3 linked regions of the Homo sapiens genome follow. The protein of the gene in region 3 purifies or fractionates together with the protein of the main gene of each other region. This does not show direct contact. Each region holds a gene or a part of one and is shown on either strand. Other genes may lie near its edges. The genes, in order: SUPT5H, ALDH3A2 and NELFB.

Region 1 (3,652 bases), on a different chromosome or scaffold from region 3:
TTCTTGCCCAGGCTAGAATGTAATGGTGCAGTCTTGGCCCACTGCAACCACTGCCTCCCAGGCTCAACTGATTCTCCTGTCTCAATCTCCCAAGTAGCTGGGATTACAGGCACCCGACACCACGCCTGGCTAATTTTTGTGTTTTTAGTAGAGATAGGGTTTCAGCATGTTGGCCAGGCTGGTCTCGAACTCCTGACCTCAGGTGATCGGCCCACCTCGGCCTCCCAAAGTGTTGGGATTACAGGCGTGAGCCACTGTGCCCAGCCTTAATTTTCTTTTTTTTTTTTTTTTTTGAGACAGAGTCTCGCACCGTTGCCCAGGCTGGAGTGCAATGATGCGATCTCGGCTCACCGCAACCTGCACCTCCCGGGTTCAAGCGATTCTCCTGCCTCAGCCTCCCAAGTAGCTGGGATTACAGGCACCCACCACCATGCCCAGCTAATTTTTTTTTTTTTTTTTTTTTTGGTATTTTTAGTAGAGATGGGGTTTCACCATGTTGGCCAGGCTGACCTTGAACTCCTGACCTCAGATGATCCACCCCTCAGCCTCCCAAAGTGCTGGGATTACAGGCATGAACCCACTGCGCCTGGCCAACCGGCCTTAATTTTTGTATTTTTAGTAGAGGCAAGGTTTCACCATGTTGGCCAGGCTGGTATTGAACTCCCGACCTCAAGTGATCCTCCTGCCTCGGCCTCCCAAAGTGCTGGGATTACAGGCATGAGCCACCGCTCCTGGCCTTTTTTTTCTTTTAGTTGGTATTTACAGCTATACATTTACTTCTAAGCATGGCTTTTTTCAAATCTCATAAGTTTTGGTATCTAGGAGTGTGTTGCCATGTATTTGTGAATTTCCTAAGTATCTTTCTGTTGGTTTTTAACTTCATTACATATGGATGGAGAATATACTTTATATGATTTTAGTTCTTTTATGTTTACTGAGACGTGTTTTATGGCCTAACCTGTGGTTTATTCTGGAAAGTTTAATATGCCCTTGAGAAGAAAGTGCATTCTGCTGTTGTTAGATGGAGTGTTCTTTTTTCCCATTTCCGCTTAATAAGTGGAAAGTGAAGACGAAATGTTCTGTCTATAGCTGGCTATTAGGTTTAGGTGGCTTACAGTGTTGCTCAAGTGTTCTCTTTCCTTGTTGATCTTGGGTCTAGCTCTATCCATGATTGAAAGCAGGGTATTGCAGTCAGTGATTGTTACTGTTGAGTTGTCAGTTTCTTCCTTCATTTTCATTAGTTTCTGCTTCATGTATTTTGAGGCTCTGTTAGTTTCATATACATTTGTAATTCTATCTTCCTGATGGATTGACCTTTTTATTGTTACAAAATGTTTTTTGTTGTCTCTGGTAGCAATTTTTGTCTTAAAGTATATTTTGTCTGATGTAAGCACTCCTTTCTTGGTTCTTCTTCTAGTTGCTTTTTTTTTTTTTTTGAGACGGAGTTTTGCTCTTATTGCCCAGACTGGAGTGCAATGGTGCGATCTCAGCTTACCGCAACCTCCACCTCCCGGGTTCAAGCGACTCTTCTGCCTCAGCCTCCCGTGTAGCTGGGATGACAGGCATGTGCCACCACACCCGGCTAATCTTGGATATTTTTAGTAGAGACAGGGTTTCTCCGTGTTGGTCAGGCTGGTCTTGAACTCTTGACCCCAAGTGATCCACCCGCCTCGGCCTCCCAAAGTGCTGGGATTACAAGCATGAGCCACCGTGCCCGGCTCTAGTTGCTTTTTTACACAGAACATATGTTGGATAGCTTTCTATATTAGTACATACAGGTTAATCTAATTTTTATTTTATTTTTTATTTTTAAGAGACAGGGTTTCACTCTGTTGCCCAGGCTGGAGTGCAGTGGTGCGATCTCAGCTCACTGCAGCCTCAACCTCCCGGGCTCAAGCAGTCCTCCCTGCTCAGCCTCCTGAGTAGCTGGGACTACAGGCATGTGCCATCACACCCAGCTAGTTTTTGTATTCTTTAACTGCAACATTGTATTTCATGGTACATTAAGCCATAAGTTAACTAGTTACTGTTTCTGGATATTTTTAAAATTTTTAGTCTGGTTTGTTTGCTGTGATAAATAATTCTGCAGGGAACACCTTTGTGTCCATGTCATTGTGCCAGTGTGTTTCTGTGGAATAAATTCCTAGAAGAGGGACTGCTGATGAGTGGCAGTCATTTCTGTTATTAGCCGTTGTGTCTCACTGTTTCCTCCTTCCACCGGCTCACCCTGCAGCCCCTGCAGATCAAGTCAGTAGTGGCACCAGAGCATGTGAAGGGCTACATCTACGTGGAGGCCTACAAGCAGACCCACGTGAAGCAGGCCATTGAGGGGGTGGGCAACCTGCGGCTTGGCTACTGGAACCAGCAGATGGTGCCCATCAAGGAGATGACAGACGTGCTCAAAGTGGTGAAGGAGGTGGCCAACCTGAAACCAAAGTCCTGGGTCCGCCTCAAGCGGGGCATCTACAAGGATGACATTGCTCAGGTGCCCGGGGCGGGGTGGCATGGGGGTCAGGGTCCCTCCATTCTGTTCTCCCTTCCTTTCCTTTTGTCCTTCCCACCCTCTTTGTGCTGCAGAGAATAGAATCCCACTCAGATGAGTTGAAGCAGAGCCTGGGTTTTGTGAGCACACAGGAAACGGTTGGCTGTCTTCTGTGCACATTCCCAGGCGTGTTGAGTAAAGGTCTGAAGGATCGGAGGGCGTGAGGCATGTGGAGCTCTTGGGGAGGAGTGTTGTAGGCAGCAGGAGTGGCCTGTGAGATAGGATGGCACAGTCACTGGCTACAGCAGGGATGGCGTGAGATGAGTTAGGGAGCTCACGAGGGCCTGCGGCCCATTGGAGAGCTTTGGTGTTTACTGGCGTAGGATGGGAGGGCTGTAAGGGACACAGGCAGACTTCAATGTTAATAAGATTTCTCTGGTGACTGTGTTGAGACTAGACCACTGGTTCTCAAGCCAGGGTGATGTTTCCCCAGGGGACATTTGGTAACGTCTGGAGACATTTTTGGTTATGTCAGCTGGGGAGGGGGTTGACGATTATGGCATCTAGCAGGTTAAAGCCAGAAATGCTAGACACACACATCCTCCAATGCACAGGATGGCTGCCCACAACAAAAAATTACCTGGCCCAAAAAGTCAATAGTGCCAAGGCTGAGAAACCCGGGAATAGCCTGGAGGGGGCCATGGGCAAGAGCGTGGAGACCAGGGAGGAGGCTGCTGCTGTAGCACATCCCACCCAGATGGCAGTGCTGGTGGGATAGGACCAAGACCCTAATACACGTTGAGTGTCTCTAACCTGAATTCTTGAGACCACAGGTGTTTTTCAGATTTCAGATTTTTTCAGCTTTTGGAATATTTGCATTATACTTACCGGTTGAGCATCCCAAATCTGAAAATCCAAGAGTGAGCATTTCCTTCGAGCATCATGTTGGTGCTCACAGGGTTTCCTATTTTTGAGCATTTTGGGTTTTTGGATTTGGAATGCTGAGACTGCAGTGGAGGAGGGGAAGAGGTCAGGTATTTTGAAGGCAGAGCTGATGGAATTTGCCAACGGGTCGGGTGTGGGTGTAAGAGAAACAAAGGAGTCAAGAGTGGCTCCCAGGTTGTGTGCCTGAGCAGAGGGAAGAATGGAGTGGGAGGCGGCAGGTTTGGG
Region 2 (2,825 bases), on a different chromosome or scaffold from region 3:
TTTTTTGAGGAAGGGCATAATCCTTTGGCCTAAACCGTGCTTCCTAGGCTTCCTAGGGATATGTAGTCCTTTTTTGTACAATGCATGTAGAGTCTCTTCAGACAGGAGGTGTCTGAGTCCCAGTGCTGAGCTTGTGTTGCAAGGCTGGTTGTGGGTAGGTTTTTAAAGCAGCTGAGTAAACTGAATCCTTTTTTCCTCTCTCCAGGCAGAATATTACTGAAGAATGATCCTGTTCAACCTCCTAGTGCCTCTACTGAATTATTCCTCTTTTAAATGGTTAATGAACCAATAATTTTTAAATCATACCAAAAATAGTAAGAAAATATGCAAACACTCTGTGATCAAACTTAAAAGTCATTGCCATTCATCATTAATAAAAGTTGCCATTTCAACTACGTCCCAACATTCCCTAATAGGGTATTCAGGGAACCTGTCTTAAATTGTGCTTATCTAAATCTTGGAACTTTGAGCTAGGGGAGGAGAATGTATTAGACTAAATACAAACTGCGGGGTTGTAAGGGAGTCTCAGAACCTCACTGAATCCTTCACTCCAGTTAATGGCACTGCTCACTTCCTGCCTCTGCTGCCACCATCACTGTGTGAAGCTTTCAAGAGCTTGGTACTTCCCAGGGCTACCGGCAGTCCTCTGTAGTCCAGAGAGGTGAGATTAGATCTTCTTGGTTCCCTGTGAGGTTTCAGGCACTAAAACTCTATGTGGGGAAGGGAGGGGTTACTCCTCCTCCAATGGGACTCAAGGACTTGACCTCCAGGAGTAGGCCCCTGGTCAGAAGTGCCATCTCACCAGTGGTCTTCATTCTTCCTCATTCATTCTTTATCATCCTGTGTTCTGTTTAGTTGCAACAATCTCTTGTGACTAATGTCACTCAAAGCATCTTGTAAATCCTAGGGCTTCCTGGAAGTTAGTTGCCAAAGTCATGCAAGCATCACCTGTCATTCTTGTGTTGGAGTTATAGAATTCTACATCTTATAAAACCTAACTGGCATTTAAAAAATACTGTGGCCGGGCGTGGTGGCTCATGCCTGTAATCCCAGCACTTTGGGAGGCCGAGGTGGGAGGATTGCTTGAGTCCAGGAATTTGAGACCAGCCTGGACAACACAGTGAGACCTCATCTCTATCAAAAAATAAAAATTAGCTAGATGTGGTGGCATGAGCCTGTGTTCCCAGCTGCTTAGGAGGCTGAAGCAGGAGGATTGATTGAGCCTGCGAGGCCAAGGCTGCAGCAGGCTGTGATTGCACCACTGCACTTCAGCTTGGGCAACAGAGCAAGACCCTGTCTCCGAAACAAATAAAAAATACTGTAATAAAAGTACTTATAAACATACTAATCCTCTTTCAGGACCCTAAAGTTGCAGGTTAGTAGGTCTTCAAGGACAAATCTGTAAGTTTCTTATTTCTGTAGTGCAAGTAAAATTTCACTTTTTGAAACTATAGAGAGATCCCTTTCTGATTAGCCTACAGAACTTAAAGTGAGGGAACCATTTCCTCTCACAGACAAAGAGGCCTGGGATATTAGGACTTTGGGGTTTGAGAGCATCATGGGGCAGACAGATGGTGGATGGTCTGGACAAGAAGCGAGTAAGCCACTGCGGTTGGTCATACTGAAGGGAATTGATGGCAAGAGGATCCCCTGAGCAAGTCAGAAGTTACTCTCATCAGTCGTTCATGGTCACAACCTGAGGTACTCTGCTGAGTGGGCAAGGCTGAAGAAGAGGCCTGTGGAATGCAGCATTACCTGCTGGACAGAGCAGGGCAGGCAGTTCTATGCCTTGGAGCTCCTGACTGCAGGGACTCTGTCCCCACACTCAAAAAGACTCAGCTCACTCAATGAGAGAATGTGATTTACTTTATAGAACGTATAATCAACTTTGTTGAATAATTTGTTCTATTAAGGCTGTCTAAAGTATGTGATGTCTTCATCATAGTATGAAGTGTTGAAAATTAATAACGAGCCTAGTTTAGGAAAAAGCTGCTTAAAACTGTGGCTCTAAGAGAGTAATCATAAAATACCTTAGATAAAATTGCACTATGGAATTTTCATTGAGTATGTTTAAATTATTGGCTTGTCTACTAATACACATCTGCTTCAAAATGAACATATTTCATAAAATTGGCATCAATTTTAATGACGCTCCTGGTATGGAACCTCAGATATACCCTATTGGAGACAATCCTTTGATCATAAATTCTCCCCAACTATAAATCATTTTATGTCTTTATCATAGATGGTATTTGTCAACTTTTTTTTTCTCATTTTAAAATTCTTAGCTGAGAAGATTTTCTCAAACTTTATGTTCTGCTGTGTGTGTTGGGGGTGGTGGTTAGTAGCTATAGTAAATAGGTTTTTCCAGTGGCATCCTCCTACCCCCAGTTGCTGATCTAGAACAAGTGTTTCTGTAAGCATATTTGTAGAACACTAATCCCGCAAGATTTTACACAAAAAAATGGTCCTGCCACCAGTCCTGTATACCACTGGCTTGTAAAGCACATCAGCAAACTAAAGGACCCAGGTCATTTGGAACCTCTGAAGTGCTAGTGTGTGCAGCTCCCAGACTTCCTTGACCGCGGAGCCGTTTACCTTAATACCTGTTAACCATGGACCACACTTGGGCAAACAGTGGCATAGAGTCTGGAATTGCTTCCATGATGACTTTGCTGTGCTCTGTTCCTACTTGTTTTGTGCCCTTATTTATATCATGTCACTACTAGAAGAAAAAGTTCAGTAAGAACAAGTATTTCTCAAAGTCTGTGATAAGTGAAAATGCTGATGGAATGAAAGAACTGTAGAAAAGGGGAAGAAGGGTG
Region 3 (3,652 bases):
AAGACACAAGGCAAAGAAATGAAAAGACAGCTGGGCCCGGGGGACCATTACCACCAAGACGCGGAGACTGGTAGTGGCCCCGAATGTCAGGCTGCGCTGATATTTATTGGATACAAGACAAAGAGGCAGGGTAAAGAGTGTGAGCCATCTCCAATGATAGGTAAGGTCACGTGGTTCACGTGTCCGCTTGACAGGGGGCCCTTCCCTGCCTGGCAGCCTAGGCAGAGAGAGAGAGAGAGGAGAGAGAGAAACAGCTTACGCCGTTATTTCTGCGTATCAGAGACTTTTAGTACTTTCACTAATTGACTACTGCTATCTAGAAGGCAGAGCCAGGTGTACAGGATGGAACATGAAGGCGGACAAGGAGCGTGACCACTGAAGCACAGCATCACAGGGAGACGGTTAGGCCTCTGGATAACTGCGGGCAGGTCTGACTGATGTCAGGCCCTCCACAAGAGGTGGAGGAGCAGAGTTTTCTCTAAACTCCCCCGGGGAAAGGGAGACTCCCTTTCCCTGTCTGCTAAGTAGCGGGTGTTGTTCCTTCACATTTTTCGCTACCGCTAGACCCTGGTCCGCCTGGCAACGGGCGTCTTCCCAGATGCTGGCGTCACCGCTAGACCAAGGAGCCCTCTGGTGGCCCTGTCCAGGCATAACAGAAGGCTCGCACTCTTGTCTTCTGGTCACACCTCACTATGTCCCCTCAGCTCCTATCTCTGTATGGCCTGGTTTTTCCTAGATTATGATTGTAGAGCGAGGATTGTTATAATATTGGAATAAAGAGTAATTGCTACAAGCTAATGACTAATATTCAAATATAATCATATCTATGATCTATATCTAATATAACTATTCTTGCATATTTTGTTATACTGGAACAGCTCGTGCCCTTGGTCTCTTGCCTTGGCACCTGGGTGGCTTGCTGCCCACAGTTGGGTGTCGTGGCATGCAATTGTAGTCCCAGCTACTTGGGAGGCTGAGGCAGGAGGATCACTTGAGCCAGGAGGTCAAGGCTGCAGTGAGCCACAGTTGCAGCAGTGCACTCGAGCCTGGGCAACAGAGCAAGGCCTTGTCTCAAAAAAAGTAATAAAAAAAATAAAAATAACAGAACCTGCTACCATCAGACTGGGGGCCAATATTTAATGAGAGGAGGGAATGTTTTCTGCCAAAAAGTAGGAAGGACAGATGTCCAGAGAGAGGGCCGCGCTGTCGCCGGGCGTGACGTCCCTGTGTCTGGCGGAGCCCAGGACGGTCTGGGGGCCTGACAGTGCCTCTTGCTGCAGGTGGTGCAGCGGCTGACGCGGATGGTGGGGAAGAACGTGAAGCTGTACGACATGGTGCTGCAGTTTCTGCGCACGCTCTTCCTGCGCACGCGGAATGTGCACTACTGCACGCTGCGGGCTGAGCTGCTCATGTCCCTGCACGACCTGGACGTGGGTGAAATCTGCACCGTGGACCCGTGCCACAAGGTAGCACTGCCCTCCCTCCTTCCCCCCTACCCTCCTGAAGGTAGTGCTGCCCTCCCTCCCTCCTTCCCTCCCACTCCCCGGCCCTCCCTCCTTCCCCCACTGCCCTCCTGAAGGTAGCGCTGCCCTCCCTCCCTCCCTCCTTCTCCCTTCTCCCCCGCTCCCCGGCCCTCCCTCCTCCCCCTCCGCCCTCCTGAAGGTAGCGCTGCCCTCCCTCCCTCCTTCCCCCCAACTCCCCGGCCCTCTCTCCTTCCCCCTCTGCCCCTCCTGAAGGTAGCATTGCCCTCCCTCCTTCCCCCTGGCCCTCCTGGCTCCTCTCCTCTCCGTGGGTTTGGCTTGGCCCGGGACCACCTGGGCGCCCTTCTCTCCCATGCCTGTTTCCTGGGCTCTGGTCTTTCTGTCCTGTGTGCTGGCCCTTTGGCTTCTCTCCAGACCCTGATGGGGGAAGGAGGCTAGTCCCCTGCATCTGAGCCAGAGACCTGGCCGTTCCCGGGGACTCCCTTGCCCCGTCCAGCCCTTTCTGTGTTCCCGAGGGCTGTATGACCTACGGGCTGGACCTTGACCATTGCCCCAGCTTCCTCCCATCTTTCCACCTGGCCTGTGGCCCTCCCCTTCCCCAGAACCCTGGGTGCTGCTTGTTGGCCAGGTACCAAGTGCTCTAGGAACGGGGTTTCCCTTCATACGGACCCTCCAGCCCTGAGACCATCTTTCCGGGACTTGGGAGTCACCCTCCGAGGCTTCCATTGCTTGGAGTGCTGCAGTGGCCACCCCCACACTCAGGGTGCCATGAAGGAGTCCGTTTTTAGAAAGAAACATCATCACTTTCTCCACCACTGTCCTGACCCTGCTGCTTTGGCCGGGAGGTGTGGGGAACACTGCACCGTCAGGATGACTGGTGCCTGCTGCCGCCCCCCGCAGCAGCTATGATTGAACAAGAGGCCAGGGCCTGGAGCTGTGTTTGGGGCCTGGGTCTCTGGTCATCCTGGGAGGTTTGGGCTGGTCCCGACCGTGCTTCCTCCTTGCAGTTCACCTGGTGCCTGGACGCCTGCATCCGAGAGCGGTTCGTGGACAGCAAGAGGGCGCGGGAGCTGCAGGGGTTTCTCGATGGCGTCAAGAAGGGCCAGGAGCAGGTGCTGGGGTGAGGGTCGGCTCCACGAGGCCTCTGCCCCTCAGGGCCCTGCGTGCATCCGGTCTGCGCTTGCTGTGTTTTGCCGTGGGTAGCAGGCGTTTATTCCCGGATATTGCTTTTTCTTTTGTTTTTTTCGAGACAGAGTCTCGTTCTGTAGCCCAGGATGGAGTGCAGTGGTGCAATCTCTGCTCACTGCAACCTCCGCCTCCTAGGCTTAAGCCATTCTCCTGCCTCAGCCTCCCAAGTAGCTGGGATTACAGGCACGCGCCACTGCGCTCAGGTAATTTTTGTATTTTTTAGTAGAGACAGGGTTTCACCATGTTGGCCAGGCTTGTCTTGAACTCCTGACCTCAGGTGATCCACCCGCCTCAGCCTTCCAAAGTGCTGGGATTACAGGCATGCGCCACCGTGCCTGGCCTCCTGGATGTTTCAATAGAGCTATGCCGGGCACTGCTGGCCCACAGCTTAGGGACATGGTTGTCGGGATGTGTGTGGGTAGCAAAGTCTCCCTCCTCAACTCTGCATTCTGGAGCCAGGCCCAGGGGCTGGGGTCTGGTGTCTGCAGTGGCGTGGGGTCAGCCTCTGAGCTGAGGGGCATCCATTGGCATTTGCTTTCCAGCATCCTCTGGCTGGTGTATAGACACAGTGCTGCCTGGCCCTGCCTTTGCCACTTTTTTTCTTCCTTTTTTTTTTTTTTTTTTTTTTTCTGAGACAGGGTCTCTGTCACCCAGGCTTTAGTGCAGTGGTACAGTCTCCCTCAACCTCCTGGGCATTGATCCTGCTGTCTCCGCCTCCCAAAGTGCTGGGATTACAGGCACACACCAGTGCGCCTGGCCGATTTTTGTTATCTTTAGTAGAGATGGGATTTCACCACCTCGCCCGGGCTAGTCTCAAACAAACAATCCACCGGCCTCAGCATCCCAAAGTGCTGGGATGACAGGCGTGAGCCACCACACCCAGCCTTTTTTTTGTTTGTTTTTTTAACTTTTTAATTTGAAAAATCTTTGAATAGGTTAAGGACAAATTGCAAACCTTAAGCTTTTTTTTTTTTTTTTTTTGA

The links.
Region 1: the proteins of NELFB (region 3) and SUPT5H purify together in Homo sapiens (affinity purification with western blotting; 2 studies listed by BioGRID and IntAct, with this or other methods). This does not show direct contact.
Region 2: the proteins of NELFB (region 3) and ALDH3A2 purify together in Homo sapiens (affinity purification with mass spectrometry, with the first as the bait; one study listed by BioGRID). This does not show direct contact.

What each region holds. Positions count from the first base shown.
Region 1 is NC_000019.10:39,462,565-39,466,216, forward strand, and holds part of SUPT5H (transcription elongation factor SPT5), read left to right. Parts: intron 1-2,233; coding exon 2,234-2,485; intron 2,486-3,652. UniProt on the Homo sapiens protein: Component of the DRB sensitivity-inducing factor complex (DSIF complex), which regulates mRNA processing and transcription elongation by RNA polymerase II.
Region 2 is NC_000017.11:19,675,353-19,678,177, forward strand, and holds the end of ALDH3A2 (aldehyde dehydrogenase family 3 member A2), read left to right. Parts: intron 1-205; coding exon 206-220; coding exon of another isoform or gene 221-273; 3' UTR 274-2,244; downstream 2,245-2,825.
Region 3 is NC_000009.12:137,261,757-137,265,408, forward strand, and holds part of NELFB (negative elongation factor B), read left to right. Parts: intron 1-1,280; coding exon 1,281-1,466; intron 1,467-2,488; coding exon 2,489-2,601; intron 2,602-3,652. UniProt on the Homo sapiens protein: Essential component of the NELF complex, a complex that negatively regulates the elongation of transcription by RNA polymerase II.